2 separate regions of the Homo sapiens genome follow, and region 2 is linked to region 1. Evidence: fine-mapped expression QTL. Tissue or cell type: whole blood. Region 1 holds a variant in brackets; the other region holds the start of a gene. All regions are shown on one strand. Distances are from middle to middle.

What was found. PIP is the estimated chance that this variant, and not a neighbour inherited with it, causes the effect.
Region 2: NPRL3 starts here. The variant in region 1 is fine-mapped to the expression of NPRL3 in whole blood (INTERVAL, PIP above 0.99).

What each region holds. Positions count from the first base shown.
Region 1 is chr16:96,890-99,645 of GRCh38, forward strand. NPRL3 (NPR3 like, GATOR1 complex subunit) reads right to left here. Exons shown (of 14, transcript NM_001077350.3): 9 at 1,256-1,412. Among named protein-coding and RNA genes, the nearest start is that of MPG, 20 kb to the left of the region's middle. The variant G/A (reference allele first, on the strand shown) is at 1,465.
Region 2 is chr16:137,605-140,232 of GRCh38, forward strand. NPRL3 (NPR3 like, GATOR1 complex subunit) reads right to left here and starts at 1,069. Exons shown (of 14, transcript NM_001077350.3): 1 at 1,038-1,069; 2 at 546-730. The coding sequence starts at 663. RefSeq lists a silencer at 499-728 and an enhancer at 949-998.

The DNA of each region.
Region 1 (2,756 bases):
AATCCAAAAAGGCTGCTTTCGGGGAAAAGTGGCCTGAGAGTCAGGCCTTGTTGGACAAGTTCCCCTAACGTGCTAAGCAGAGACCTGTTTCACAGGCCAAAAGAGCATGGAAGCTCAGCCAGAGGGACCCAGGCGGGCCCACCTCACGCCTGTGTTCCTCGGCAGCCTCTGCTGCCCCCTGGTGGCCATGCTGTGCACACCGCCACCAGACGAGGGCGCCACCCACAGGCACCACCTGCTCCCACCCTCAGGCAGTATTTCAATGGTCCCGTGGCTCTGGGCCACGCCCACATGACTAGCAGCCACAGCTGATCCCATGGCCTGTTGGCCACCCCATCAGCAGCCCCTGCTTCTGATTTCTCCCCGTGCTTTTTTTTTTTTTGGAAACAGAGTCGCCCAGGCTGGAGTACAGTGGCACAATCTCAGCTAACTGCAACCTCTGCCTCCCAGGCTCAATTGATCCTCACACCTCATACCCCCAAGTAGCTGGGACTACAGGTGCACGCCACCACACCCAGCTATTTTTTTTTTTTTTTTTTTTGTATTTTTTGTAGAGACGGGGTTTTGCCATGTTGCTCAGGCTGGTCTCAAAGTCCTGGGCTAGGATGACAGGCATGAGCCACCGTGCCCAGCCTTGCCTGCGCTTTTCCTCCCACACTCCAACCAGATCCGCAGACGAGGCTGAGGGGCCCTCCATCTAATCAGAAAGGGCAGCCCTCTGCATGGACAGGCCCATAAGCATGTGGCTCAGCAAGGACGTGGCATCTTGTACAGAGTGCACAGGCCAACACATGTGCACACACAGGGGCGTAAGGCCACCAGGTTAGGTCTCTGTTCTGCACATGGGAGGGCCCCGCATCCAAGCTTCCTGCCCTTAGTTCCCGTATGTTGTTCATGCACCACTGTGAGACCCCCATGGCCCTGCCCGCTGCTGCCCTGCCCACCCCCTAGCTCTGGTGCCTCAACCTCCAGGACTGCAAGCACCCCAGTCCTTTCTCTCACAGACTCGCCTTACCTCTCTGAGACAGAAGAACAAGTCAGTCCCGTGGCTCACTCACAAAGCCAGCCCTGAACCCAGGTCTGACTCAGATGCCAAAACCTCCAGCCATCCCAGGGACTGGCCCCACCCCATGGTGGGCTGTGCCGCGGCTCTCAGCTGGACACAGCCCCTGTGGATGTACTGTGGCAGGCGGCCTGCCTTTCCTGATGCCCCAGCACCGCCACATGCCACCCATCTGGGCCTCCAGAGCTATACCTGCAGCAAGGCCAGGTCCGCATCTTGGGCTAGCTGCTGCAGGTTCTTCACAGCAGATGTGGTCTTGATCACCCGCACTAGGGCAGGGGAGCAGTCAATAGGAAGCTCACCCAGCAAGGACTTCTCATCACTGAGCAGCAGCAGGGCATGGTAGGGGCTGCAAAACAATCACCTGTCACGGAACACACGAAGTGCAGGAACCCTGCACC[G/A]GGTATGCACCAGGTCCTGCACCAGGTATGCACCGGGTATGCACCAGGTCCTGCACCAGGTATGCACCGGGTATGCACCAGGTATGCACCTGGGACTCAAACACACGGAACATACGAAGTGCAGGGAACCCTGCACCAGGTATGCACCAGGTCCTGCACGAGGTCCTGCACCGGGTGTGCATCAGGTATGCACCTGGGACACAAACAGGCAGCTGGAGCCTCCTGGCCCTTAACTGCGGAGAGAAGGGCCAAGAGCGGGATTTGAGAAAAGGGCAGTGGTCTGTTTGGAGGCCTTCACAAAATCTGCCAAGGACTGGCTCATGCCTATAATCCCGGCACTCTGGGAGGCCAAGGCAGGCAGGTCACGTGAGGTCAGGAGTTCGAGGCCAGCCTGGCCAACATGGTGAAACCCCATCTCTACTAAAAATAAAAAAATTATCCGGGTGTGGTTGCACCCACCTGGGGTCCCAGCTACTCGGCAGGCTGAGGCAGGAGAATCACTTGAGCCTGGGAGGCGGAGCTTGCAGTGAGCCGAGATTGCGCCATTGCACTCCAGCCTGGCGACAGAGTGAGACTCTGTCTCAAAAACAACAAAAACAAAACCTGCAAGGATTATGTCACCCTCGGAAAAAAACACGACAAAAGTGGGGAAGGCTCGAAGACTGGACTCTGTATCCCACCTCAGAGACGCCCAGCAAACATCTGTTGATTGAAGACATGAATGAATCTTTCCTAAGGAAATTGTCCCAAATATGGGAAAAGCAAAATCCTCCTCACAGACTAGGGACCAAAGTACATTAAAATATGCTTAGCTAGGATTGAAAGCAAAGAGCACGGACTGGGGAGGGTGGAACTAGGCAGCGCTTTGCTTTCTGTCATTTCCAAATTTTCAGCAATGTGCCCAGATATATTTTTATAATTAAAAAATGTTCAAGGTATTGGGGGACTTGGGAACAGGTGGTGCCAGAAGACTGGGCTCAGTTCTTTCCTTGCAGAAAATCAATTAAATTGCCAGGGCATGGTGGCTAACACCTGTAACCCAGCACTTTGGCAGGCCGAGGCGGGTGGATCACGAGGTCAGGAGTTCAAGACGAGCCTGGCCAACATGGTGAAACCCCATCTCTACTAAAAATACAAAAATTAGCCAGGTGTAGTGGTGTGCACCCATAATCCCAGCTACTCAGGGGGCTGAGGCAGGAGAATCGCTTGAACCCGGGAGACAGAGGCTTCACTGAGTGGAGACTGTGCCACTGCACTTGAGCCCCGAGCAAGACTACATCTCAAAAAAAAAA
Region 2 (2,628 bases), 41 kb after region 1:
AGTGGCGCGATCTCGGTTCACTGAAACCTCCGCCTCCCGGGTTCAAGCAATTCTCCTGCCTCAGCCTCCCAAGTAGCTAGGATTATGGGCACGCACCACCACGCTCGGCTAATTTGTTTTTTTTTATTTTTATTTTTTCAGTAGAGACAGAGTTTCAACCATGTTGGCCAGGCTGGTCTCGAACTCCTGACCTCAGGTGATCCACCCGCCTCGGCCTCCCAAAGTGCTGGGATTACCGCCACCGGCCTTGTTCGTGTAATTTTGTATTTTCTCATGATGAATACATCCCAAACTCATTTTATTTTATTTTACTTTATTTTTTAAAGGCTGGAGACTGATGAAATGTCAGCAGTAGTTGCTTTGGTGTGGTGAACAATGCATGATTTTAATTTTTTTTTTCCTTTTTCTACTTTTCAAATACTCTACAACGAGCAGATCTCGAATGCCCAGCAAAAGCTAAGCTCCGCGAGGCGGCCCTGGAATGAGGCGACCCCGGAATGAGGCGGCCCCCGCGAGCGCCAGGCCCCCGCCCAGCGCTCACTTACTTGTCTGGGACGCCGGGTGCTCCTGGCTTCTCTGGAAGGGGTACCTGAACAGCAGCTTATTGCCCCTGCTCCCCGAGCTCACCAGAATCACGCTGATGGGGCTGGTGTTGTCCCGCATCCCGCCGTGGGGCCGGGGCCGGGGGCGGAGGGGGCCAGAGGAGGACGGAGCCGGAGGCGGAGGGGGCCTGAGGAGGACGGAGCCGGAGGCGGAGGGGGCCTGAGGAGGACGAGGCGGGGACGCAGGGGGCCTGAGGAGGGCAGGGGTGGAGGCGGAGGGGGCCTGAGGAGGGCAGGGGTGGAGGCGGAGGGGGCCTGAGGAGGGCAGGGGTGGAGGCGGAGGGGGCCTGAGGAGGGCAGGGGTGGAGGCGGAGGGGGCCTGAGTAGGGCAGGGGTGGAGGCGGAGGGGGCCTGAGGAGGGCAGGGGTGGAGGCGGAGGGGGCCTGAGGAGGACAGGGGTGGTGGTGGACGCGGAGCAGCGCCACAGTTACCAACCCACGTGCCACGCTCCGGGCTCGCGAGACTTCGGCGACACCGTCCGGAGGAGGTGCTAAGGCGGCGGCCGGGAGAACGGCGCAGGCGCAGGCGCAGGCGCAGGCAGCGGAATGCGCAGGCGCGGGGCCTTCTGGAAGCCACCGAGTTCCGCGGTGCTGTCTGGAGCCGTACGGTTCGCGTTTGGGGCACAGGGGCCCCTCTTGCTGGTGCGGATGGGAAAGGCGCGGGGTCGAGTCAGCGTCCCTCTCGATGTTGGTTTCTTCGTTTTACAAATAACACTTGGGCGGGGCGCGGTGGCTCACGCCTGTAATCCCAGCATTTTGGGAGGCCGAGGCGGGCGGATCACGAGGTCAGGAGATCGAGACCATCCTAGCTAACATAGTGAAACCCCATCTCTACTAAAAATTAGAAGAAATTATCCGGGCGTGGTGGCAGGCGCCCGTAATCCTAGAGGAGAATCGCTTGAACCCGGGAGGCGGAGGTTGCATTGAGCCAAGATCACGCCATTGCACTCCACCCTGGGCGACAGAGCGACGAGACCCCGTATCAAAAAAAAAAAAAAGAAAGAAAGAAAGAAAAAAGAAAAAAAAAAGGCCGGGCGCGGTGGCTCACGCCTGTAATCCCAGCACTTTGGGAGGCCGAGGCGGGTGAATCACGAGGTCAGGAGTTCGAGACCATCCTGGCCAACATGGTGAAACCCCGTCTCTACAAAAAAAAAAAAAAAAATTAGCCGGGCGTGGTGGCGGGCGCCTGTAATCCCAGCTACTCGGGAGGCTGAGACAGGAAAATCGCTTGAACCCGGGAGGCGGAGCTTGCGGTGAGCCGAGATTGCGCCACTGCACTACAGCCTAGGCGACAGAGCGAGACTCCGTCTCAAAAAAAAAAAAAAAAAAAAAAAACACTTGGAAGCCGACAGGAGATCTTTGAGACCTTGGGCGAGGCAGTGACACTAAAGGCAGGAGCGACTACAGAAGAATAAATTAAACTTCATCAGATTAAAAACTTTACTGCGGCCGGGCGCGGTGGCTCACGCCTGAAATCCCAGCACTTTGGGAGGCCGAGGTGGGCAGATCATGAGATCAGGAGATCTAGACCATCCTGGCCAACATGGTAAAACCCCGTCTCTCTACTAAAAATACAAAAATTAGCTGGGTTTGGCGGCGCCTGCTTCTAATCCCAGCTACTCGGGAGGCTGAGGCAGGAGAATCGCTTGAAGCCGGGAGGCGGAGGTTGCAGTGAGCCGAGATCGTGCCACTGAACTCTGGCCTGGCGACAGAGCGAGACTCCATCTCAAAACAAAACAAAAACTTCGGTGCTTTAAAGGACACCATCAAGAAAATTAAAAGTCCACCCACAGAACGGGAGAAAATATTTGTAAGTTACATATCTGATAAGGGAATTGTATCTAGAATGGAGGAAACTTACAACTCAACAATAAAAAGACAATTGAAAAATGCACAAAGGATATGAATATTTTTCCAGTGCATTATGCAAATGGCCAATAAGCACCAGAAGATGCTCAGCTCAACTGGTAGAGGCTTACGCCTGTGACCCCAGCGCTGAGAGGCCAGGAACTCCAGACCAGCCTGGG